2 linked regions of the Homo sapiens genome follow. The protein of the gene in region 1 interacts with the protein of each later gene in a biochemical or structural test. Each region holds a gene or a part of one and is shown in the gene's direction. Other genes may lie near its edges. The genes, in order: PTPRU and OSTN.

What was found.
Region 2: the proteins of PTPRU (region 1) and OSTN form a complex in vitro, tested with the Homo sapiens proteins (one study listed by BioGRID).

Annotation. Positions count from the first base shown.
Region 1 is NC_000001.11:29,323,522-29,327,598, forward strand, and holds the end of PTPRU (receptor-type tyrosine-protein phosphatase U isoform 1 precursor), read left to right. Parts: intron 1-109; coding exon 110-267; intron 268-1,669; coding exon 1,670-1,805; intron 1,806-2,077; coding exon 2,078-2,140; 3' UTR 2,141-3,279; downstream 3,280-4,077.
Region 2 is NC_000003.12:191,202,061-191,209,358, forward strand, and holds part of OSTN (osteocrin precursor), read left to right. Parts: intron 1-4,870; exon of another isoform or gene 4,871-5,029; intron 5,030-7,298. UniProt on the Homo sapiens protein: Hormone that acts as a regulator of dendritic growth in the developing cerebral cortex in response to sensory experience. Induced in the brain following membrane depolarization and inhibits dendritic branching in neurons of the developing cortex.

The DNA of each region.
Region 1 (4,077 bases):
AAGGACCCTGGGTGGTGGCTGGGGCAGCTTTTAATGACCCTCTGTGTCATCAGGGGCCCCTGGGACCCTGGTGCTCATGTCCTCCCTGGCTGGCTGCCCCTGTCCCCAGTTGCAGGAGGGGCACCTGCTGGTGCGGCACTTCCAGTTCCTGCGCTGGTCTGCATACCGGGACACACCTGACTCCAAGAAGGCCTTCTTGCACCTGCTGGCTGAGGTGGACAAGTGGCAGGCCGAGAGTGGGGATGGGCGCACCATCGTGCACTGCCTGTGAGTACCTGCCCTGTGGGAGGGCGGGTGGAGGGGTTGGGGAGCCAGGGGCAGAGGTCCAGTCTGAAAGGGTGCCAGCTTTGGCTGGACTGCAAAGCTGGCACCGAAACCCCTGGGCTCTTAGATGGCTGTGGCCAGGATGCTGCCCAACCAGCCAAGGCTGGCCCTGGAGGAATCCAGTGAGTTTCCAGGCTATAGACTCAGCCCTGAACAACTGCCCAGTATCCTCTGTGTGATGTCTGACTTTGCCAATTTAATTAGAGTCCTTGGTCAGAATTTTTTACCCCATGAGATTGTGGCACACTTTTATGCCAATAGAATTCCAGTCTTTGTTCATGCATGCACACATGTGACTTTTTCCATCCATCCATCCATCCACCCATCCATCCATCCATCCATCTGCATGCCCCATTCATAAGTTCATGTATTCACTCATGTCTGGGTGCAGTCACTCCTTTGCTCCCCACTTTTTCATGCTTTCAGCATTTACTGAGCCTTTCGAGTGGCAGGCTGGGCCTACTGGAAGCTGGTGCGGAGCTGAGTCAGTCCGGGTCTGGCCCCCAGGGGTTTTGGTTCTGGTGGGAAAGACCCCTGAGAAGGGGAGTGAGGGCCGCATCAGTCTGCCATTCCCCAGGAGGCACCCCACACGTGGAGTCACAGGGAAGGAGGGAGAGGCACGGAGGGGATGGAGCTCTGTGGGAGGCTGTGGGTTTGACTTGGGGTTTGGGTACGTTTGTGCCTGTGTGCCCACGATGCCAGGTGGTGACCAGTCTTCTCAGCATTCCTGTTCCACCTTGCTCTCTGGGTACGCGCTTGCTGCTCCTCCGCCCTTCTTTGTCACTGTCTTTGTCTCTCCGGGTGTTTCTCTTGGAGTGTGTCTGGCCTCCTTTCTCTCAGAATCCGCAGTCTGTTTCGCCTTGAGAATATGTCTTCTGAGATGTCTTAGCCTCTGATCCTTCTTAACCTGGTCCTGCTCCTCCCTCTGGGTTCCCTAGCCCCGCCCCTTACCTCTGGGTCCTCTGCCCCGCCCTTCTGAGTTCCCTAGTTCTGCCCCTCACCTTGGGCTCTTTGGCCCTCCTTAGTTTCCTAGCCCCGCCCCTCACCTCTGGACTCTTTGGCCCCTCCTTTCTGGGTTTCCTAGCTCTGCCCCTCATCTCTGGGCTCTTTGGCCTCTTCCTTCTGGGTTCCCTAGCTCCGCCCCTCTCCTCTAGGCTCTCGGGCCCCTCCTTTCTGTGTTCTCTAACTCCGCCCCTCACCTCTGGGCTCTCTGCCCCACCCTTCTAGATTCCCTAGCTCCGTCCCTCTCCTCTAGGCTCTCTGCCCCTCCCTCGTGGTTCCCTGGCCCTTTTCTTACCTTCAGGTTCCAAGGCCCCGCCCCTCAGCTTTTGCATCTCTCATTCAGAAACGGGGGAGGACGCAGCGGCACCTTCTGCGCCTGCGCCACGGTCCTGGAGATGATCCGCTGCCACAACTTGGTGGACGTTTTCTTTGCTGCCAAAACCCTCCGGAACTACAAACCCAACATGGTGGAGACCATGGTGAGGGGCTGTGTCCCGTGCCCAGCCACTTCCACCTTCCTGGTCCATGCCAGGCCAGGTTCCTTAGCACCCACTCTCCCATATCTGGGCCCCACCACTGGGCCTTGGTTCTAGCCCTGTGGTCCTAAAACATTACCCCCATTTCTCCCTTCTCCCCGAGGGCGGGCCTGGGCTCGGGCTCGTGCTTGCCCTCTCACTCCCCGTTCCCCTCCCCCCACAATACTGGAGTTGGGGTCAGGCTCATGATTCCCTCCCTCTCTTCCTCTCCCCAGGATCAGTACCACTTTTGCTACGATGTGGCCCTGGAGTACTTGGAGGGGCTGGAGTCAAGATAGCGGGGCCCTGGCCTGGGGCACCCACTGCACACTCAGGGCCAGACCCACCATCCTGGACTGGCGAGGAAGATCAGTGCCTCCTGCTCTGCCCAAACACACTCCCATGGGGCAAGCACTGGAGTGGATGCTGGGCTATCTTGCTCCCCCTTCCACTGTGGGCAGGGCCTTTCGCTTGTCCCATGGGCGGGTGGTGGGCCAAGGAGGAGCTTAGCAAGTCTGCAGCCCAGCCCCACCTCCATAGGGTCCTGCAGGCCTGTGCTGAGAGGCCTGGTGCTGCCTGGCAGAGTGACAAAGGCTCAGGACGGCTGGCTCTGGGGGACTCAGGCCAAGCCCCTTGGCACCATCCTGGCTTTTGGCAGGGATGAGTGAGGCCCTGCAGAGAGCATCCCAGGCCAAGGTTCCCACTCAGCCTGCCCCCTCTGCATGTGGGTAGAGGATGTACTGGGACTTGGCATTTAGGATTCCATCTGGCCCAGCCCCTGAAGGTCCTGGGGAAGCAGGTCTCAATTCTGAATAGCCAGTGGGGCACACTGACTGTCCTCCCCAGGGGAACTGCAGCGCCCTCCTCCCCACTGCCCCCTGCAGCCCCTGAGATATTTTGCTCACTATCCCTCCCCACTTGCTTCCCTGATATGTGCTCTGAGCTTCCCTGAACCAGGATCTGCCTATTACTGCTGTGCCCCATGGGGGGCTCCTTCCCTGCCTGACCCACTGTTGCAGAATGAAGTCACCTCGCCCCCCTCTTCCTTTAATCTTCAGGCCTCACTGGCCTGTCCTGCTCAGCTTGGGCCAGTGACAATCTGCAAGGCTGAACAACAGCCCCTGGGGTTGAGGCCCCTGTGGCTCCTGGTCAGGCTGCCCGTTGTGGGGAGGGGCAGTGTTAGAGCAGGGCTGGTCATACCCTCTGGAGTTCAGAGGAAGAGGTAGGACCAGTGCTTTTTTGTTTCTTTTGTTATTTTTGGTTGGGTGGGTGGGAAGGTCTCTTTAAAATGGGGCAGGCCACACCCCCATTCCGTGCCTCAATTTCCCCATCTGTAAACTGTAGATATGACTACTGACCTACCTCGCAGGGGGCTGTGGGGAGGCATAAGCTGATGTTTGTAAAGCGCTTTGTAAATAAACGTGCTCTCTGAATGCCACAGAGCAGCCCTGTGTGTGTCTCACCAGCCTGACGGGGCCTGCTCACCTGCCCCCAGCCTCCAGTGCAGTGGGAGGGCCCTGGAGAAGCCTGGGTTCTGATCTGGTCCTGGTTTTTCCATTCGTAAAATGGTGGGAGTGTGGACCAGGACATCACTCAGGGTCCTTCCACTTTCAGAGTTGGTTCCAAGGGACCCTGGCCATTGCTGTCCCCATCCAGGCCTCTGAAGCAGTTCCTCAGGTAGGGTATATCAACTCGAGATCCCTGAGGGCCACAGAGCTGCCTCTCACTCCACTGGGGGCCCTGGATCAGGTTCAGCTCTTTCTGGGGCAGCATGGGAGGCTCAGGCTTTGGTGTCAGGCAGATGGGCCCAGCAGCTGCGAGACCCTGGGCAAGTTAGTGCCCTCTCTGGGGCCTACTTTATCATCTGTAAAGTGGGGACAGTCCTGTTTGGATCAGATGAGGTAATGATTAAGTGCCTTATGTAGTGCCAAGCGTGTTGAAAGGGCTTACTTTACAAACATCGCAGAGATGGGGGCAGAGGAGACACAGCCCTGCTGGGGATGACCGTCCCATTGCCCCAGCCCAGCCCATTCCCAGCCCCAGCCGCCTCCATGGGGTAGAGAGGGAGGAGGAGCAGGCTGGCTGGTAGGGACCTGGGTCACTCCTGACTCTGTCACAGGCTTGCTGCCTGACCTTGGACAAGACAATTCCTGTTTCTGGAACTCAGTTTCTTCATATGAAGGCTGACTCTATGATGTACTCATTCTGTTTGCACACTGGCTGACCCTCTGTGCCT
Region 2 (7,298 bases), on another chromosome or scaffold:
GTTTCTACTAATTCACTTTGTTGTATTACAAAGTATACATACAATACTAGGAGTTAGGAGACCAGATTTCTAAAGTAACTCAGCTTGTCTCAGTTCACAGATGTTTAAAAAATAGAATTATAATGTTTTCTGTATAGGTCTAACATGACTTGTAAGGATGACAGGAGATTAATTTCAAGATAGTAAAACACTATGCAAATGTTATTTTTTCAAAAGTTTATGTATGACAATTCTATTTGAAGAAAGTGGAAGCATTCCAGAAAGGATCTGCTCTTGCAGAAGGAAATCCCTAGACAGGACAAGCGGTTGAGGAGTTTCCACCTGAACCAGGCTGTGAGCAACAGGAAGACAGAGAAAGTATCTTCTTTACTTTTATATCCCCAGTATCTGACATGCAGTGTATGCCTAATAAATGCATCCTGTTTTTGAGTAGTATAAAATTTATATTTTTGCCCCTTTGTTTAATGTTAGAGATACTTTTCCATTTATTATGTTGGCTAGCTTAATGTAATTATGATGTAAGATTTTGATCAAATATTTTATATAAGTACAAAGTGGAGTAAACAGTGAAGGGGGTCGTGAAATTCCACATTAACTTCAGATTTAAATATGCTATATTTAACTTAATTTATCCAATTTTACCCTCTGCAAGCCTTTTAATGCTGCGTAAAAAGTTGCCTATGTATGGAACGGCCAGCCGATATGTGCAACTCTATTAGCTTTTCCCTATGTACAGTTTTAAAGCTATTTTCCCTTTAGTGAGCATTAGAATTAAACAACAAATTTCATTAACAGAATTGCCTACAATTATATACTAATGTTATTTTCTATTTTTAGGTAACATAGTTTTATATCAAGAAATATTTAGTTATTTGGGGATTTAGGTACAGATTAATGTATGAAAAGGAGAAATCCTAAAGTTTAGAGGAATGATTATTTGAGGTTAGTGATGCATGTAACTTTCATTAGAATGAGAATCTGTGATGTTAAATACTAATGGATGTATCAGGATTCCAGCATGAACTTCATCACATTTTACTGTAGCTGTAGAAACATAGGCTAATCTCTTATCTTCCCTCTACCTTGGTTTTCGTATCAAGAAAGCTGGGATATTAGTATCTGCCCCGCATTCCTGTTTACCTTCCACATAAGGCTGCTCCATGCATTCATTCAACACACACATTTGACCCTGTGCCAGGCATTCTGTAAGGTGCTGAGATGCAATGGTGAACATGACATGGTCTCTGCCCTAAACGAGTTTATAACAACTAAACCCTTTGTTAAACATCCAGATCTGGGGGTTTAAAATAATAATGGAATCTTTCTCTAAGGTGGCATTGTAGGTTTCTGGCTTCTTAATTTTTGCAAGAAAGAGATTAGTAGCATTAATCACAAATCCAAATAGAGGAAAAAAACAGACAGAGATAGTTAAAAATAAAATTTTAAGATTTTGGAAGGCAAAGTATCTAAAAAAGAGTGAAAATGGTGCCAAATAGAATAAAATCAGTTAACACATGTTCTAGTAACTTATCATTCTTCCTAATTTGTTGCCTTCAGGGACAGTCATTTTAAAATGTAGGTATCTGCCACATTAATAACACTGCATCCATAAAAATATTACTTTATAAAAAATTTGTTTGGGAGATAGAAAAGGGTTTTACACTTACACAAATAGGTTATACTCGAAAGAGCATGAAACTGGGAGTCTGAAAATGAAAGTTGTTGTTCTGGCTCTTCTTCTAACTGGCTTTGTGACTTTGGAAAATTTGCTACTGCCAATTGAAGAGCACTGAGAAATGGGAAGAACACATTCCTGATATTTTATTTATTTATTTATTTATTTTGAGATGGAGTTTCGCTCTTGTTGGCCAAGCTGGAGTGCAATGGCGCAATCTCGGCTCACTGCAACCTCCGCCTCCTGGGTTCAAGCGATTCTCCTGCCTCAGCCTCCAGAGTGGCTGGGATTACAGGCACCTGCCGCCACGCCTGGCTAATTTTTTTGTATTTGTAGTAGAAACGGGGTTTCACCGTGTTAGCCAGGCTAGTCTCAAACTCCTGACCTCAGGTGATCTGCCCACCTCGGCATCCCAAAGTGCTGGGATCACAGGCGTGAGCCACCGTGCCCAGCTGATATTTTAATTTTTTTTTAACGGGAAATGTTAAATTTCTCAATGTCAGCTTGCTCCTTTTTTTCAGGAATCCAAAACATAAAGTAAATTCCCATTACACAATTTATTAAAAATAGCAAATTTCAGAAGGAAATGTTTAAATAAATGGCTATGCACCACGAGTATTTCTCAAATGTATTTTTTATGAGGATAATATAGATGATATATGTGACACTGACAGAAGCTACAAGCCACTAGCAATTTTCAATTGCTCTTGGGTGAAAATCCTCAATGATTTTAAATCTCGAATTTGAGTTTATGAAGATCCCAAACTTCTTACCCATTTCTAAGCTTCTAAGTGACACAGCCACACTCAGTTATCTGGTTTGTGAGGCAAAATTCATCAGAGACTGGAATCGCAGTTTCAATAAAAAAAGAGACCGCAATGGCTGGAGGTCCCAATCTTTGCTTTCCAGCAGGTAAGTCTCTCAATCATCTGGGTGCTTCCCTAATCAAAGAAAGCTAGAAAAACCTTCTTTAAAACTTTGTTCAAATATTGTCACTTATTGAAATATCGAGATTACCTATAGAATGACAAACTATAATTTATCCTTTTGGTTTTTTCAATATAAGTTTTGCAGATTGTCCCTATGAATGGCTGTAAGTTCCCTAAGTGACTGTTGGGTGTAAATTTTGTGTTCATAGAAAAAAATTGGCTTCAAACATCTGCCTTCAGCTTCATAACAATCACTTCAAAACAATTTTTTTAATTATGTTTTAAAAACATAATATTTTCAAATTATAGTTTACAAAGTGTTTCTACATACTATTTTAGTTTCCGTTGTAAAGTTTTTAGTTATAATAAAACACAAATTAAAAAGGTGTAGTTTTCTCACAGATAAATTTATATCCTCATATATTTTTAGGAAACAATATTAAATATAAACTTAAAAGGCTTATTTATTTGAACTCTAAGCCAATTCCATAATTTGTGCTGTTTGTAAATTAAGATTAACTAAAGTTAAATAACTTACATTTTGTGAAGAAAATCAGTTTCATTAGACAGTTTTGAATATTTTAGAGTCTTGTTCAAGATCATTAGCCCATTAAGGAGCACAGCTAAACCTCTTATTCCTGTCCTTCAAGTCTGAGCCTGAGTTTTTCCCCAGCATAATGCTGAATATCTGTATATTGTCTGAAAGAGTTTGAATATTTTTTTGAATATTTATTCTTTCATTGACAGAGAATTTTTGGAGTCACGTCAAGTAAAAAAAAATATATATATATATATGTATATAAAACCTTCACTAATATCACACACATTTGTGATGCTGGTGGAGGTTGTAGAGATCTGAAAATTCTTATTATCAAAAATTCGTATTTTGTCTTCACCAATTTTATATCTACTAAAATTAAGATCATGATTACTGAGAAAATATTCAAATGATTATTTTGTCTTGACAGACTGTTAATTCAAAATGCAGGAGAGTAGTACTCAATTATTTTTAAATTATTAATATTATTTATGTTACTTGCAACATTTCTATCTGATAACCAAGTTAAATATCATACAAGTCTTTCTTTCTCTCAGCTTAAAAGAGAGGATATAACTGCATTCTATGGCATCTGGAACCTCAGTTCTAACAATTTTTGTTTTGAAAGGGTAGGGAAATGAGCATACTGACTTATGCATGATAGGAAAAAAAAGAGAAGTAAGAAAAAAATCCTAAGTAAGGCCTGGCACAGTGGCTCATGCCTGCAATCTCAGCACTTTGGGAGGCTGAGGCGAGTGGATCACCTGAAGTCAGGAGTTCGAGAACAGCCTGGCCAACATGGCGAAACCCTGTCTCTAGTAAAAATACAAAACTTAGCCAGACACGGTGGCAGGGCCTGTAATCCCAGCTACTCAGGAGGCTGAGGCAGGAGAATCTTGCTGGAACCTGGGAAGCGGAGGTTGCAGTGAGCCAAGATCGTGCCACTGCACTCCAGCCTGGGCAACAAGAGCGAAACTCCATCTCAGAAAAAAAAAAAAAAATCCTAAGTAAACATTTTAAAATAAATATATTACCATATGTCATCAATTTTGCCTCACATTTAACATCTCTGAAATTGGAATTAGTCTTACATTTGATAAGCATATCAATTTAATTGGTAGCATTGTTTTTTCTTAACATGTTCTTAAAAATGGAATGTCTTACCATAAATGACATCCCAAAATCAAAGATTTGGAGATTCTTTCTTTTCAGCTAGAAATACCTAATTTTAAAAATACTGAAAGTGAAAGAGGAAAATATTTCTGTCACAGCCTAGATGCAATTTTTTGCATAAACTTTGGCTGATTTGAGGAACTCATCCAGTCAGTTTTCCTAGCTAAATCTGCACTATTCTCATTACCTACATGTTAAGTGTCTGCACTTTTACCAGAAAATAGCCAGCTTCACCAGTGAGCTTTAAAAGCCAGATGCAACATTAGAGGTCAGTTAGACCATCTCCATTTTAGTTGGTCTAGAGAGGAAAGTGTTTGCCCAACATCACATCACTAAATAGCAACAGAGGCAATGAAGAGCCTGAGTCTCACGACTCTTGCATCAGGTCTTTTTTCCATTACAGAGAGCTATGCAGACTTTGTGTTAAGCACTGTCCCTTTTAGGCCTTTTTCTAAGATAAAAAATTATTGTCACTCTGTCATTTATTATTCCTGAGTGTTTATAACTTAATGGAGTGGGTAAAGGGTAACCTGAAGAACGTATTATGTTTTACAGACTTACTTATGAGCCAAGCTGACTCACGACTTGCCTGGAAGAACACCATTATTTCAATGGGAGAAGATTTTAGGCGGTGTTGTCGGCAGGCACGCATGGTCATTTCATGGTGTCAGAACTAAGGCCCCTTTATAAAATATCCTGCTAAATCTCTTAAATGTATGTGCTCTGTCGCGGTGAGAAGAGAAAGTAAAGAAAATGTAGCCGTTGAATTAGTTTGTAAATCCTTTAATTAAGTCCTTTATTTTAAATTTTTGTTCAAAGGAGACTGGAGTCTATTTTGAGTATTGCCAATCAAGGTATTAGGGTAAATAATTAAAAATTCCTAGACAATATCAAGATTTACTCACAAACCTAGTACCTTTGTGAATTTCTAATTGTTGGATCAACTATCCATAAGTCAGATGTTAATCATAAATTTGCAGGTTGAAGAGAAATGTCCTTTACACCTGAGTTGTTTTTTTTTTGTTGTTCAACACCAGACTTCACATGCAGATAGTTTAAAAGTCTTATTGATTAATAGGTGCATGAGATCAGATACTGGCTTACATTGCTTCTCTTTTTCAGCCTAACCATCTCTAACATTTATACATCTCATAGAAGTTTGCTCTTTCTTTTGTAGATAAATGATTTTCAATCTCTTTTTTTCTACCCCAGCCCACATGAGAGACTTTTTTCACAATAAAAATAGCTCATTGCAACACTGATTCCTACTAATAAAAACATCTTTCTTCATCTTAACAGGCTTCTTATTAAACTCTGGTTTAAATATAATTAAGCCAGTTTTTCTTTATTGCTGGAATTTCAGAGCCTTTAATGTGAATTGGAACTCTAACACCTCTTTAAAAATATACAATATATCCCAAACATAAATGACAAAATTTTATACCTCCTGACAAAACTTTATACCTCACTGCGTTATTCCATATACCATCATTCTAGCCAGTTTGAAAGATCCTTTCAGGGTATAGTCAATTCTTACATGTGGAAAGTCCTTAAAATAAAGCATAAGATGTTATACAACATAAGACATTTGTTTATTCAGCAGAATTATTTAAAACGTCAAAACACATAATAGTCCAATTGTCTAAAAAATGAAGGACGTACACAGATAATCTTCTTATAAGGCGGATTCCATGGTCGCTGTTTCTTTTGAAACTCCACACTATCCAGAGAAATATTACTCAAAAATTACTTTTAAATAATGATGTGCTAAAAAAAAATGCAAACACCTTTACTTTGGTGCATTCACGCAATCAATGAACACCCTTTCATTGAACTTTCTGTGATCTAGAGTATACATGGTGCCTAAGAGATTTTAAATCATGGGCTATATTTATCCACTATCAACAAAAATAGGAAAATGGGGCTGAACTTAGACTTTTCCTTTCCTCCCTATAATTTCCTCCATTTCTAATTTTGTAGCAATCAAGTTTCAACTAGTTAATCAAATGTCTTTTGTATGGCAGGTGCCAGGGTGTTTGTTTTCATTAGTGTACCAAATGCCACATTTAGGAACTTGGCCTTTTGGTTAACTGGCTACAAGCATGGCTTTAAACCATTAAATGTGTGTATTTAAACTCAGCATTTATTTTTACATCTCCTTATCCAAATAATCAGGATGTGGTTATCTGTAAGATGATACATCATGATTTTTTCCTATATACACCCAAGCACAAAAATATATACCTCAGACATAATCATCAATATTGTAAACACTCATCATCCTGTACCATTTATAAGATTACAGAGAAGAGGAGAAACCTGGTTAGTGAAATGTACATAAAAATAGTTAAAGGAAATCCACATGGAAAGGCATATAAATTTGGGCAATTTTCACATTTGAAACCTATTTTTATGACAAAAAGCAAGAAAGGAAAACATAAAGAATTGTAGTTTGTCTTTGATTAAATGGGACAACAATTTCTTTTAAAAAGATATATCAGGCCAGACGTGGTGGCTCACGCCTATAATCCCAGCACTTTGGGAGTCTAAGGCAGGTGGATCACCTGAGGTCAGGAGTTCGAGAGCAGCCTGGTCAACATAGAGAAACTCTGTCTCTACCAAAAATACAAAAAATTAGCTGGGTGTGGTGGTGGGCACCTGTAATCCCAGCTACTCAGGAGGCTGAGGCAGGAGAATCGCTTAAACCTGGGAGGCAGAGGTTGCAGTGAGCTGAGATTGCACCACGGCACTCCAGCCTGAGCAACAGAGTGAAACTCCATCACAAAAATAAATAAATAAAAAAGATATATCGGAAATATGAAATCATTTTAAAAATACAGATATGTTCTTAGTACATCCTCCTTTATGTAAAGTCAAAGAGACATCAGCAAAATCAGGAGAAAAAGAATACAATTAAGTGGCTGGCTTCCTAAAGTAATCACTAATACAGGTTTTGGTTGGTATTTTCATCAGATAACTATTG